Homo sapiens: one gene and its partners. The protein of the gene in region 2 purifies or fractionates together with the protein of the main gene of each other region. This does not show direct contact. Each region holds a gene or a part of one and is shown on either strand. Other genes may lie near its edges. The genes, in order: RNF139, ERLIN1, SOAT1 and INSIG1.

What was found.
Region 1: the proteins of ERLIN1 (region 2) and RNF139 purify together in Homo sapiens (affinity purification with western blotting, with the first as the bait; one study listed by BioGRID). This does not show direct contact.
Region 3: the proteins of ERLIN1 (region 2) and SOAT1 purify together in Homo sapiens (affinity purification with mass spectrometry; one large-scale study listed by BioGRID and IntAct). This does not show direct contact.
Region 4: the proteins of ERLIN1 (region 2) and INSIG1 purify together in Homo sapiens (affinity purification with western blotting, with the first as the bait; one study listed by BioGRID). This does not show direct contact.

The regions. Positions count from the first base shown.
Region 1 is NC_000008.11:124,484,564-124,489,118, reverse strand, and holds the end of RNF139 (E3 ubiquitin-protein ligase RNF139), read right to left. Parts: intron 3,289-4,555; coding exon 1,475-3,288; 3' UTR 526-1,474; downstream 1-525. Other genes in the region: deoxyribonuclease TATDN1, read left to right, coding at 423-525. UniProt on the Homo sapiens protein: E3-ubiquitin ligase; acts as a negative regulator of cell proliferation through mechanisms involving G2/M arrest and cell death.
Region 2 is NC_000010.11:100,152,177-100,155,210, forward strand, and holds part of ERLIN1 (erlin-1), read right to left. Parts: intron 2,764-3,034; coding exon 2,684-2,763; intron 177-2,683; coding exon 1-176. UniProt on the Homo sapiens protein: Component of the ERLIN1/ERLIN2 complex which mediates the endoplasmic reticulum-associated degradation (ERAD) of inositol 1,4,5-trisphosphate receptors (IP3Rs).
Region 3 is NC_000001.11:179,299,994-179,303,809, reverse strand, and holds part of SOAT1 (sterol O-acyltransferase 1), read right to left. Parts: intron 1,134-3,816; 5' UTR 1,126-1,133; coding exon 1,008-1,125; intron 1-1,007.
Region 4 is NC_000007.14:155,300,591-155,304,406, reverse strand, and holds part of INSIG1 (insulin-induced gene 1 protein), read right to left. Parts: intron 2,842-3,816; coding exon 2,717-2,841; coding exon of another isoform or gene 2,687-2,716; intron 2,157-2,686; coding exon 1,990-2,156; intron 1,661-1,989; coding exon 1,561-1,660; intron 583-1,560; coding exon of another isoform or gene 512-582; intron 1-511. UniProt on the Homo sapiens protein: Oxysterol-binding protein that mediates feedback control of cholesterol synthesis by controlling both endoplasmic reticulum to Golgi transport of SCAP and degradation of HMGCR.

The DNA of each region.
Region 1 (4,555 bases), on a different chromosome or scaffold from region 2:
TACATAATAAAACCTAACAAAAAATGGAACAGTACTTACCCTTATTGAGTACAATGTACTTGTCAATGTTTAAAATGCTCATCATGACCCACTAATGAACATGCTATGACTCACAATTGAAAAGGACTCTTCATTTCCACTCAGTTAATGCTATAATTGGTGAACATAATACAGATGGCTGCTTTAATAATTTACTTGAACCTGGTTCTTAGCTCTAGTTATATGCAAGACAGTCCATAAATCTGTTTCCAGTTACTGGCAGTAAGTTTTTCTATTGATATTGCTGAAAAACTTAATAACTGTTAAGCTTTATTATATTAAAGGTGTGCCAATATTTTCCTTTGTGTGGAAAAATATTATATAGCTTTAGAACTAAATGTATACTTGGAGATTTAACCATTTTTGTTTTTGTTTTGTTTTAGTCAAATATTGGAGATAATGTCAGCAGTGAGAGATGAGGATCCACTGGAATTAGCCAATACACTATATAACAATACTATTAAAGTATTTTTTCCTGGAATATAATTGGTATATGTCTTCCACTTTCCATCATGTATGTAAAATTTCATAGTAAAACTTCCTGATAGTTTCAATAAAGAAATTATCTGCAAGTTGTCTAAAGAAATACTATATATCGGTACACACCATTCCCCACCATTCCCCTTCTTTTTCTCGTAAAATCAGATCAGGATGTTTTTATATCATTGAGTATCTTAGTTTAAAACAATTTAAAAAAAACTATTTTTGTTTTGTAATATCTTCAAAAGAATGAAAGGACAATTTTATGACAATACTGCAGACACAGAATGGCTAACAAATATACAATTTTACATAAAAAACATTTAGCACATTCTGGTTTATATCAAAGTTTAGTTGATACAGTTTATTTGTCAACCCTCAGTCTCTCTCTGAATCAGGACTTTCAAACTCAGCTCAATTACACTGCTACTCAAGTTTCAAAAAAGGTCCTCAGTTGCTTCTGGCAGCTAATTTTTTCTTTAGTTTTAAAATACTCTCTCATGTCCTTTATCCTCTGGTCAAATTATTTTATTTCCTTGACTTTAATGTGGTTTCCTGATTTGCATTTTCATTCTCCCACCCATTTCTAAAGAAAAACTGAGGTCCAAAGTTACATTATATAATTTCATTGAAGAATATTTGGCACAGGTGACGCACCATATGATCATTACATCTATTAAAAAGCTATTTGTTCAAATTTTGTCATAAAAATGTGAAAACATTTTATTCTATGTACAATAATGTACACAAATTTAAACAGGTCACCAAAGAGACCAGAAGTAATTAAAGAGGTATATTTACAGTAGCACATCACAGTAAACGGAAAACCATTCACAGATTCAACATTGATACTGTTTTTGTGCTTGGTTACACACTGAAGGTGAAGGATATTACTCCATTTTGGATGAACTGAATTTTAAACAAATACCTCAATCATTAATAAATGCTATTTTCATCAGTCAGTATCATCATTAAATTCTTCAGCTGCTGCGCCTGTGTGCTGAATCACTCCATTTCTTTCTCTTTGAACATCATCATCACAATCTGTACTGTCATCTTCGTTCAATTCCCTGTCAGATTCAGCAGCAGCTTCTCTTACAGCTTCCTCTGGAGTTTCATTGGGTGGAATAAATCCATTGTTGTTAGATACATTTGAATTATCCTTGATATCATCTTCGATGTATACTTTCTGATGGCACATTGGACAAGTATCTTGAATGTACAGCCATTTCCGAAGGCAAAGTGCATGGAAATAATGATTACACGGTGTAATACGAGCAGATGTTGTAAACTCATGATAGCAGATTGCACATACATCATTTATTTCTTGTAAGCGGCTCCCTTTTATTTCAGGAAGTGAATTAATTTTCTTCACAGCAGTCCTACGATTCATAAATGTCTTCCAGCCATTTTTGGCTTGTAAGTAGATGTTAAAATATGCATGTAGGCACATCATAAAAGCCCGAATTTTACTTCCCGACTCAAACATCATAGTGTAAGCCCCATTTCCAAACATTACAACTCCAAATATAAATTCAATAATACTGCCTGTTGAACGAACGTAGTAGACATAATCGTCAAGCTTTTCCCAGAGGACATTATAGTAGCCATCAATCATGAATAACGTATAAACAGTGAGAGAAACAATTACTTTTAAGCACAGTTCCACACAAAATGCTGTAACTGCAAACAACCATGTATTTAGTGCATAGTGATGCCAAAGAACATAACTGAGTAAGACAGGAAGAATAAACAGGCAAGCAGAGACAAACAGCACAGGAAAATGTCTACGAAAAGATGACACATGAGAGGCACTGAGAGACATTAATACAGGGTCTGTCATTCCATGGATAAAATGCAGGACTGCAGTTAATAAAAGGCACATGTTTCTACTTAAGCGAATAAGTCTCTCTTCTGGTCTTAGCCCACTTAACCCAGTCTGAAGAGCCAAAATAAAAAATAAAACAGGTGCAACAAAGCCAAGACGCCTGTCATCTTCCTCAGTTGATCCAATAAAGGCCAATATTCCAAGCCCCAAATAATGGGCTACTGAGGAAATTACAGCACTCATGCCCAGTACAGTTAGTGTAGAATCGCACCCACTAATTATAAGATTGCAAATGAGGTCCCAAAAATCATCCCAAGAAATAAAGAAGGAATCAGTTTCATTTGCCATCCTTAAGATGTACATTAACACTGTAGCCTGAGCTGTAACTCTTGTTAGCCAAAAGACTCGTAGTATGTCTGGGAAACGAATCCTCTTCCATGTGTCCTCCATCAATAACTGTAATCCGTAAATTCGATACATGTGCCTCACCAAAAGATAAACATATCGTGTGGAATAATAAAACCACTTCAGTTTCACTGCCAGGACAAACACTGTATTTAATGTGAGAATCAAGGAAGAAGTAAACAGTAAAGTCTCTCTGATGTGTAATGGTAGCTCTGTGATTAAGCCTATTACAGGAACCAAGAGATCCAAAATAATTAATTGTGAATAGATGGAATGAATCTGGAGTAGTGTAACGTATCCAATTCCAAATGTTAGCTGTAGAACGATAAGTGCCATCCACAGCGAGGGACCTTTTCGAGGAAGCAGCTCAATTCCAAAAGCTGACGTGTTGTAGGCACCATAGAAGTCAATGTGCAAAGAAGCATAATAATTCACCAACACTGAAGTTGCAGCTAACAGAAAGGCTGAGCTGTACGTGTAAAACTTGAAAAGTGATCGTTGTGACAAGATCAGAACAATACTGGATGCAAATACACCTAAAAGAAAGAAAGAAAAAGTCATTTGAATGAAGTATTTGTAAGAATGTTTCCCCACTAAGAGTTATGATATTCTTCCTTTAATTAGGAAATATGAATATTTTCAGTTATGAACATTAAGCCTCAAGACAACTAAGGCTTAAAGGGTAATAAAGGTTTTGTAAAGTCAGAGTTCAGGAGAACAGACCAAACATACTAAATTATTCTTTAAAATTTCATTCCTTACTTTCTAATTTCCAAAGTATTTCAAGTAACACTGTAGCTGTCCAAGGCACCAAATTACTAAATTATTTTCAAGATGAATTTGTAGTGGTACATACATTTTAACAAGTTTTAAAACTCAAAAGAATATGTCTTTTATCATTTCATAATCATTAAAATTAATTTTAAAAATTGGGTTAAAAATAACCCAAATGGAAAACATTTATTCCTATTAAGTTTTAGATTCATTTATTATTGACTGACTGAGACAAGAGTCTCACTCTGTTGCCCAGGATGGAGTGCACTGGTGCAATCTCAGCTCACTGCAAATTCTGCCTCCCAGGCTCAAGCAATTCTCCTGCCCCAGCCTCCCAAGTAACTGGGATTACAGGCACCTGCCACCATGCCCAGCTAATTTTTGTATTTTTAGTAGAGACGGGGTTTCACCATGTTGGCCAGACTGGTCTCTAACTCCTGACGTCAAGTGATCCGCCCGCCTTGCCTCCCAAAGTGCTGGGATTACAGGCGTGAGCCACCGCACCCAGCCAAGTTTTAGATTTTTTTTTAAAGGATTCTTTAGGAAATCAAGTTCAAGTTTTATACTTCCACTTAATTCCTCCTTTTCTTCAAACTGTGAACTCATGCCAGCTCTTATTTCCTACTCCTTAACTCTGAGCATTCTCCAAAGGGTCCAAAATTCCATTTTTTTTCCTCCTAGTTTCCTTCGGACTTAGAAACATCTTCCAAGTTCCCTTTTTCCTGTATAATGCTGAATCTGTTTCTTAAAATAGTCAACTCTTTTTATTGTTCTTCACATTACAAAAGTAACACTCAGAAAACCAAGACATGTTTTTAGAAAATGGTAATTCTCCTTCCCCCACTCCATAGACACCATCTTTCTTTGTACTCTGACAGAAATGCATATTTTAAGTAGGATTACAATAAACACATTATTATCCAAGGTTTCAACAATGGGAATGACATCTGAATACTCACCTACTTTCACTCCTACAACTGCAAATCTCCAAAGTTCTGAAACTCGACTTGCCTTAAACTAGAATCAGCT
Region 2 (3,034 bases):
TCAAGAGCCTCCTTAGAGGGGAGTGAGCTTTCTCTTCCAGTCCTAATATCTGAATATTTCAAAGCACATGAGGAGTCCACGAACATGTTAGGGATGTTGCTGCCAAAATAGATCTTACTGTTAGAAGCAATGGCCTGGTACTTTTTGAGCTCCAGATATTCCGGGGTCAACTTGTGCTGTGTGGGAGCAAACAAGAGCAAAGGCATCAGAATACTCTGGTGCAACAGTCTTCTCTCTCCCTATATACATTTCACCTATTGCTCTCCTGAGTATCATGAGTCAAGTCTGAATAACTGCCAATGACCCTCTCTCACTTTGGAGAGTGGCTATCACATTAACAGCTGCGTTCCTGACTTAAAATTCCTTCATTAAGCTCCTGACTTAATGCAAGAGAAGCTGTTCACTTTTTAATAAAAGGATGGGGGAGTTGGAAAACAATTTGTGATAACTAATGATAATAACTAATATTTCTAAAGTGACTTTCATTTCATCTAGTTGAATTCAACCTGGAATTGGTCTGGAGTTTCTGTTGATTCTCTTTTCTAAAAAAATTATTTTTATTTTTGTAGAGATGGGGTCTATGTTGCCAGGCTGGTCTCAAACTCCTGGCCTCAAGCAATCCTCCTACCTTGGCCTCCCAAAGTGTCGGAATCAAAGATGTGAGCCACTGCACCCAGCCTTTTTTTTTTCTGGAGATGAGATCTCACTCTGTTGCCCAGGCTGGAATACAGTGGTTCAATTATAGCTCGCTGCTGCAGCCTCAAACTTCTGGGCTCAAGAGATACTCTCATCTTAGCCTCCAGGGAGGCTACAGGAATGAGCCATCATGCCTGGTTCTCTGTTGATTCTCTTGAGAGAGATACACAGGTCAGTGGATGAGAGCAGAACTTCAAAGGAAGGGCTGGTGCTCATTATCTTATCATTAGCTGTGATTCTGCTTTTCTTGAACAAATTCTAGAACTAGAATAAAATCTCAAGTTGTCACCTGATCTGGCCTTCTGCCTTTCCCCAGAAGCTGGATGTTTAAGCTGCTTGTGACAGACAGATGTTTGTCGACCACCAGATCTATGTGACAGTGTTTTGTTTAAATCAGGATGCCAAGATGTATCTAACCAGAACCTATCTGGGTTTGATTAAAACTCGTCGACCACCAGATCTCCCTCTGTCACACTGTTTTGTTTTGTCTAAATCAGGATGCCAAGATGTATCTAACCAGAATCTATCTGGATTTGATTAAAACCCATTTCCACTGTTCCCTGTAACATATGCCTTTCAAAGCCCCTCAGACCCTGCTCTGTGATCCTCTCCTTATCTTGAGTCCTGGCCTGTCCCCCAGGCAAAAGTCCATCTTGTCCTTCACAGTCCTACAGCATTTATTTTCTACACTTTGACATCTTTCACTCTTTGGATCTCTATCTTCTCCAGGTGATTCATATCCTCTGTCGAAACACTCCAATCAAATCTGGTCATAGTGCACAACCACATTTCTTCCTCAAGCCTTTTTAATATAGGTTAGTATCTGAGTCACATTTTTCAAAATGGCATAAAACTACTGCCCCTTTCTGAATAAGGTAGACCTCAATGGCAAGGTCTTGAAACTTGTGCCTGACGAGCTTCTCCCATTAGATTTGGACTCCTAGTTTCCTCAACTGGAGTTTCCTGTCATGCCTTTCTTTTGGCCAAATTCCATTCTGTGTCTATAGAACTGTGTCTTTCAATGTTATGTTCATTTTAAAATTTATATTGGTTTTCAAAGTACTGACAACTCTCATTCTATCATCTTATCATTTCTTCTAAATACGGATTATGTTGTTCCTTTCTAAATTAAAAGCCCTGTCTATATCTTAAAACTTGACTCTAATCCTTCAAACTGCATCATCCACTTTAGTAATCTCTTTCTCAACCCTTTATCTGTTCCAATCTGCTCCACGATAACCTTATAAATCTTGGACATACCCTTCCCTTCTCAGAATACTATCGGAGTTCTAGCTGCCTCTTAAATAGCCCCTGCTCACTAGCCCTGTACCGTCTAGCCAGCTTACCCCAGTCCTTACACCAAATTATCACCTATATATCACCCAACCTGCCTTCTCAAGTTATCCCACATGAAATTCCTCATGACTGGAATAGTTTTTTAAATCCAATAAACAAGGAGTACTCAACAAGGGGCATATGGAAATACATGCATGTGTGTGTGGCAGTTAAAACAACTGGTGACCACTACTGACATTCAGTAGACAAGGGCCAGGGATACAAAATATCCTACAATGCATGAGATGGTCTTCAACAATGAAAAAGTATCTCAACCCCAAATGCCAGGAATGCCTTTGATGAGAAATACTGCTCTAATCAAGCTAAGTATCTACCAAAAAAACTACCTTATTTGGAAAGCAATTCTAAATAGACTTTACTCTTCTGTCACTCTTATTTCAGAAGACCTTCAACTTAATTAATTATTCAGCCTTATATAGCAGTACAAATGAATGGAATTACGGCATTTGGCCTGTGTCCCTACCCAATCAATGTGAAATATTTCTTGCTAACTGACTAATTCTGGAGGATGTCTTGGTCACTACACTTTCTTGACAATGGATAAAATCACTTCTATCATATCAGAGCTCCTGAAAAGAGAAAGCAAAACCCCGAAATGCATCATTAGGAAAGTGGCCAGGGAGCCAGTCACCTTGTTTGAGGTGGCATATTTGTGTGCAGCATAATATTCAGCATCTGCTTTCGCTTTCTCTCGGGCCAGGAATGCAGCATCTAGCAAATAAACAAAGGAAAGGTGTCAATCCATTCCCTCAGCTAGTTAAGAGTCCCTTTCCCCACTGCTTAATATTGTGACTGCTTATTTCACATTGAAAGTTTTAAAAACCTATTAGCAGTTTTCAAGTCCCAGTCCCCAAACAGCAACTTCTCTACGAGGAATACTCTTTTCACTGTCAAATAACTCTCAGCTCATCTGAGCCTACTTGTTTTCTACTCTAAGTTGTTCCTTCTCTCCTCCACCCACTCTCCCACCTCCTATCACCCA
Region 3 (3,816 bases), on a different chromosome or scaffold from region 2:
CGGAAGGAGAATTCTCCCCAGTATTGGCTCATCCTCCTTTGCATAAATTTCACATTTTATATCACACTAAAACTAGCCCATATGCCATATAAATATGTCATATATAGCTAACTAAGAGCCTATCAATAAACCTCATTATGCCAACTCAAGCAGCAATGTTTACATTCCTGGTGGGATCCAGCTGTTGATATTTAAGTTTAATTAAATTTAGGTAGGAAAAACAAAACTGTTTCTTTATGAAAAGAGATGAAATGCCAAAGACAACCTGTCTCAGAAGGTTCCGCACCTATTTGTTAACTAAACAATCCTCAATTTTCAAATCCTTGTTGAAATCAAACCTTTACAAATGTCACTGCAAAAATTAATACCCTGATGCAATAGATGACATCAATTAGAGTTGTGTTTACAAGTCTATCATTCATAATCATAAACCTTGACCTTAACAACAAAGGACTATCGTATTCCTCTTTGTAGTCAGGCATTAAGCAAACGTGGATACAAGAACTAATAAAACTCCCTAACTACTCCTCTCCCAAGATTTATAGCTCAGTATTGAACTGGGTTAGGCACCCTGCTAATTACTCACATTTTACTCATTACATCTATTATGAAAGTAGTTAATTACAAGAATATTACACTGTGATAAATCTAGTTATGTGTATGATTTTGGAGGTTTTGTCATTCACTTAACTTGGAGCTCCATAATGGCAAACAAATCCGTACTGATCACTGCTATAGCCCCAGCATCCAGCGGGGGACCTCAGCAATTATTGGTAGGTTACGTGACTGAATGAATGGTCTCTAAAACACAGCAGATACCAATAGATGACCACCAAATTAATTAACGAGAAAGGACTTATTGTCTAATTGCTTTGTTACTAGACATATAAAACTCTATCAATACCCATTTACAATAAAGAATTAAAGAGATGGCAATACTTATTCTATAACACTGTATTTGTTCTCTATTTCACTAATTCACCTAAAAAAAAAAAATTAAGCCTCACCATTACTAGGTGTCTCTAGGGACTCCTTTGCAGGGTTTCTCTGGTCTTCATCTTCCTCAGGATTTTCCCTGGACTTTGACAGCCGGTTTCTTAGAGACATCTTCTCTTCACCCACCATTGTATTGTCTAGGAAAGAAGGTGTAAAAAGCTTTCGTATTAGTCCGTTTTCACACTGCTATACACTACCTGAGACTGGGTAATTTATAAAGGAAAGAGGTTTAACTGTCTCACAGTTCCGCATGGCTGGAAAGGCCTCAGGAAACTTACAATCATGGCAGAAGACCAAGGGGAGGCAAGGCATGTCTTACGTGGCGGCAGGAGAGACAGAGCAAGGAAGTGCCACATTTAAAACCATCAGCTCTCATGAGAACTCCCTCACTATCACGAGAACAGCATGGGGGAAACTGCCCCCATGATCCAATCACCTCCCACCAGTTCCCTCCCTAGACACGTGGTGATTACAGTTAGAGATGAGATTTGTGTGGGGACACAGAAGCAAACCAATATATCAGCTTTGAACTAAGCATCTGGCTTACGTGAATTTCACAATACCACTATATTTAGGAGAGGTGAAATGTGATGATACATTCTCTTCCTTTTGCATTAATCATTTCAAAGCATTTTCTGGGTACAAGATACTCAAGATAACAAATCTGAAGAAATCAGGTCCTATAAAATAATTGGAATGGTTTTGAAGCCCCTTTTTAAACATAGACCCCACTCTTAAAGAACAATTTAGTTGAACAAAGCATTAAGTATGTAAAAAAAAAAAAAAAAGGATTAAATAGTAACAGGTAACTACAAAGATGCCACAGGGTGGAGTATGATTTAATAACAAAGTCAATGGTAAAAACAATACCTTAAGTTCAGAGACAGCAGAGATTAGCAGAAGATGTAAAGGTTTCACAGAAAAGAAGGTATTTTAGACACAGTCTTGAAGGATGAGAACTGTGCATTCCATGTGCAAGAAAGGATTAAAACAAGGACCTTATAAGCCCCGTTCAGGGAACCATGAAGGAATTGAACTACGACAAAAACAAGTTTTTGTTAAGTATCTACTAAGTGCAAGGACCCTGCCAGATGCTTTAAGTTTTCTCATTTAATCTTCATAACAATTCTGAAAAAAATTACCCTCAGTTTTCACATGAGAAAACAATGATTTAAAGTAGTTACTATCAGTGTCCTCCACCCATGTACCAGGAATACACCTGCAGTTGAACAAGCTGAATTTATAGGAATGCACACCACAGCCCCAGGTACTAGAGTCTGCTTTTCTTCTCATTACAGTAACTTGCCCAAGACCACACAGCTAACGACAGAGCCCGATTGGAACTGGCATTAGTTGGATCCAAACTACAAAGACCACTAACTACTGGGGGAAAATAGTTGGTAATGGAGAAATGTGATGAGGGAAAAGACTAGAAAGGAGGACAGGAGTCAAACTATAAAGGCCTAAGAAATTAGAAGTTTTTCAGGAAGGCAGTGGTGAGACACTTTAAGCACTAAAAAACATGATCAAAGATCAATATCAAGATAGTACAAGGTTTACTCTAAAGCCATGTGTTTCCCTAGTTGGGCATGGTGGCACACAGCTGTAGTCCCAGCTACTTGGGAGGCTCAGGCGGGAGGATGACTTGAACCCAGGAGTTTGAGTCTGGCATGGGAAACATAGCAAGACCACATCTCAAAATTATTTATTTATTTATTTATTGAGAAGGAGTATCGCTTTGCCCAGGTGGGAGTGCAATGGTGCAATCTCGGCTCACTGCAACCTCCGCCTCCTGGGTTCAGGCAATTCTCCTGCCTCAGCCTCCCGAGTGGCTGAGATTACAGGTGACTGCCACCACACGTGGCTAATTTTTGTATTTTAGTAGAGACAGGGTTTCACCATGTTGGTCACGCTGGTCTCGAACTTCTGACCTCAAGTTATCCGCCCGCCTCAGCCTCCCAAAGTGCTGGGATTACAGGCATGAGCCACCGCACCCGGCCAAAAAAACAATTTTAAATAAAAAGTAAAGCAGTGTTTCACTATGTGATAAAGTTTTCAAGAGTCTAAAGCAAGAAGAAAACAACTGTGAAATACTCATTACATTATTTTAAAGCTATATATATTTAAATTCTGAGACTACAGTTTTTCTTAATTTTTGTACTAAAATATCCTTTTCTGTATAAAAGGATGAAATATAGTACATGGTGGGTTTGGTTGTTTTTCAACTATCACAGCTTGGCAAAGTAAAAATCTGACAAATCTAGATCGGCTTTCTTCTAATTATTTCTGAAATCAAACAAATGAAACAATTGTGGAACAGCAGATGAATATATCAAGTAGAAATGTTATGATATCATAAGATCTAATTAAGAGGAACTTAAGGGAAAAGTCAGGGCTAATAAATCACAAGACGATGCCCAACTTACAATGGTCCAATTCTGTGTAAAAGTGACAGAGGAAGCCACAAGAGCATCTATCTCTTCATCAGAAATGATGAGAGAAGTAAGAACTGAAAACTAAACTTTGAGGGACAGCCTCAAAGTAGAGGAAATCAGGGAAGAAAAAGAAAGACACAAAAGGAACCAAGATGTTTCAGTAAGAGAGGAATTTTACAAGGAATAATGGGAATTTTTTTTTTTCTGGCCAGATGAACAGAGACTTTTTTTTTCTGGCCAGATGATGGGGAATTTAAAGTAGATACTCTTTTAAAGAGCATATAGCAAAAGTTTAAAGCATAAAAGACAGCAAAATGAAGCCGGGTGCGGTGGCTCATGCCTGTAATCCCAGCACTTTGGGAGGCTGAGGTGGGCAGATCATGAA
Region 4 (3,816 bases), on a different chromosome or scaffold from region 2:
CCGAAACAAAAATCTCAAAGCAAGAAAGCAATGATGGAGTTGCCAGCTCTCCTTTGAAGACTATTAACGGGGATGATGGCGAATGCATGAAAACAACATACTATTTCCATGTGGGACCATCCGACCAGATTTTTAATATTAAAAAAAGCAAGGCCAGGCTCACGCCTATAATCCCAGTGCTTTGGGAGGCCAAGGTGGGAGGATGGCTTGAGCCCACGAGTTCGAGCCCGGCCTGGACAAGGCAGGGAGATAACATCTCCACAAAAAGCAAAAAAGTTAGCCGGGTATGGTGGCATGTGCCTGTAATCCCAGCTACTCGGGACGCTGAAGCGGGAGGATTGCTTGAGTCCGGGAGCTCAAGGTTACAGTGAGCTATGATGGCACCACTGCACTCCAGAGCTCTGTCTCAAAAAAAAAAAAAAAAAAAAAAGGCAAGCAAAGTCCTTTCTTCTCCATCATGAGAAATTTGGCAGCAGAGAGTCAGTAACCAGTGGAAGACTGCAAATTCTACCTGTAATTACTTCTGGTTTTGTGAAACAGCCAAGTGGTCTTCAAATTCAACTCCTCACAGAAGGGTATCAGCTGGCAAAAATAAATGTACTGTTTTAAAAATAGCATGAGGTACTAAGATAAGTTTTCCCAGAGCTTATCTCCGAGAGCAACAGCTCTAGGTTTTTGTTGTTTTTTTTAATTTACTTTCTTTCAGCCTGCCAAAGTCAACTCAAAATAACATTTAAAAGTCCACCTCTATGTTTTTAAATTGAAGTGCTAAGATGTCAATTTTTAACTAATGAGAACTGCTAAAGCCATCCTGGAGTTCACTACCTTTCCGTCTCCCTCAGGGGGGCTGTGAGAGAAGCTCTGCGGGGTAGCACTGCTTTCTCCTGCAGCTGAGAACAGATGCAATGTTCAGGCAGGACAGTCCGTCTACATGGTGACCCGGCCACGTGCAGCGGTGCTCTCATCACCACTTCTCCATGCCCAGGGCCACCTGCCCCACAGAAAGGTGCTGCCTGCCTGAACCAGGCTGTCCCCTTGCCCACCCACATTAGTCCCTGCCCTGGCCCGAGACAGACTCTGCAGCCTCAGGCTCGATTTGCTTGACTGTGGACTAAGAGGCCAGCATCATCTGCATCCACTCTGATTTTGTGAAAAGAAACACTGGTGGACTGATGCTCAGGGAGCAAAGTATCACTGCATGAGGTCATCCAGATCTGCTTCCGATGGTGAAGGAGGAGGGGACACTCACACACCAGTCACTTTCTCTACTGCTTACTACAGAAATTTCAAGAATTCAGAACACTGACCACATCTGCAATTCAAAGGGGCAGTGCGAGGGCTCTAGTTCCTTTTCTAGATCAAATATTATGAATTTTTATAATTTAGCAAAGAATTACCTGGGTATCATTACCTATTTTTTTAAATATAAGCTTTTCTCAGTAGTTGTCACTCAAGTCTGAACCAGAATATATGAACGCAAATTTGAATGTATCATGTAAAGTCATTCTATCAAGGTAAAGAGACGCAAGTTTTAGAAGATAATATGATCATTTCACTTACCATAGCTAACTGTCGTCCTATGTTCCCCACCGTGACGCCTCCTGAGAAAAATATACAAGGGAGCCAAGAACGAATATAGAGGAAATCTGGGGATGTATACCTGGAGCGAGAAAAGAAACTGTACCTTAGCAGTCAATTTCACCTGGCTCAATTCTACATCACAGATTCTCTGTAGTGGGGATATGCAGAACGCATATCAACCATCCAATGTTACGAATGTTCATATTTGTTTGGTTGTAACTGCTACTACTTGGTTTTCCTTTGCGTTACATTAAGTTATGGATAGCAGCATTTTTGAGAATTTCATGCCTAAATCTGTATCATTCTATATAAAAAACAAATAAAATATGAAAATATCTAAGCTTAGTGGATGTTTTAATGAAAGTTAAGTAAGCTTTCCAAAGCCAATATTTGAAAACACACACTTACTGATAGACACCATTATACACGAGAAACTGCGTGATCAGCGTAGCTAGAAAAGCTATGGTGATCCCCAGCCCAAGGCCACTTCTGGAACGATCAAATGTCCACCAAAGGCCCAAAGATAGGGCTGCTAAAGTCAAGGACAGCTGGACATTATTGGCAAAATCCAATTTCTGGTGATATAAAAGTTAAGGAAAAGTTTGCTGACTCTTATTAAGATAAAAAAACGTAAAACCACAAGGGTTAAAAACATGGGTATTTTATTATTGTACCACAGATAATTCACTGTCCATAAAAACTGTGTAATAAGCTAAAGAAAGGATTTGTTGGATACAGGTTACAGTAATCATTAAGATCACCTGAAATCTCCCTGCCATCACTGAGTCAAAAACTTAACCATAAGAATAAACTTGCTGAAAGCTATATATAAAGTGCTTATATATATTTATATAAATATATATTTATTATATATATTATATATATTTAAAAATATATATAATATATATAAAAATATAAATAAATATATATTTATTTTGACCATAAAACAATATATTTTACTATGAAGTCATCGATAGCCCCATTCTTCTTTCTCTTTTTAGTAATCTGAAATGGGTAGGTACCACCATCATGTCTGTATTATGACATGGAGTCATTTGAGTATATAACAAAACAAAACGCTTCAATATATAACCTAAGAAGATACTCTGGACGTAGCACAGAAAATTAAGGATACAGCACTGGCGTGGTTAATGCCAACAAAAACTGCTATGCAGCGCATGACACTGGCCCATTCTCTCTTAAATTTGTGGGGTTCTCCGAGGTGACTGTCGATACAGGGGTACAGTAGGCCAACAACAGCTGTTTTAAAAAAGTTGACAATGTTAGAATACAGCAGATTCAAGTTCCAGAATTTCAACGTGGTCATTAGTAACACAGTACATTACTCAAACCAGTCCTTTTCCTAGAAAAAATTATCAGCTATAACTTCAGAGTGATTTTATATTCTTGTTCTCTTTGAGTACCACTCCCACAAAATTGTACTGTTTGGAAAAGTTTTTTAAAAATCACTATTATTTAGTGTAGTTGAACATGTCTCAGTAAACACAGGAAGGAATCAAGCAGGGATTATTCATATTAATATGAGCAATATGTAACCTTATATTTAATATCCACATTTGCCTAAAGCACACAGAACTTAAATGACTATGTAGTTCACCTTGTCTTTTCATCCGGTGTGATTTCTATCTTACAATAAAAAGGTTAGCATCTGTCCACACCCTGTCACATCACAGCTCTGACACTCCTGCCACCACCCAGTACTGGGGCTGGGCACGTGATGAGATACATATTTGCTGATGTGACTTTGACAGTCTGGGTCACATGCTCCTAGAGTGGCCCTGGAGTTGATTTTCGGGGGTTCTAGCATGTTCTGTACGAGGCACTGAGCACCTACTGTGCACACATGCACATGGGCAAGTACGGGGCGAGACAGCCCCACACAGGCTTCGCTTATTCTCCATCTGGTTCCCGCATGGTCAAGCCTCAAGCTGCGGAAAGAACACCAGACCAAGAAGAGAAAACTCAGCCTCAAATCCCAGCTTGCCCTCTGATGGGACGTGGCTCTGCATGTTTGTTTTCTCATGTGTAAAATTATAAGGATTATGTAACTGGGACACAGAGAAAGAGATCACTGTGGTCTGGAATAGTTATTCTTTATAGACACGAACTTGGAATTTGGACAGGTGGGAAGGAATGGCATTCCAAAAGAGAAGTAAAATGGCAAAGATGAAGGCAGGAATGAATGTCTGTAGGGGGGAGTGGGGTGCCGGCCCG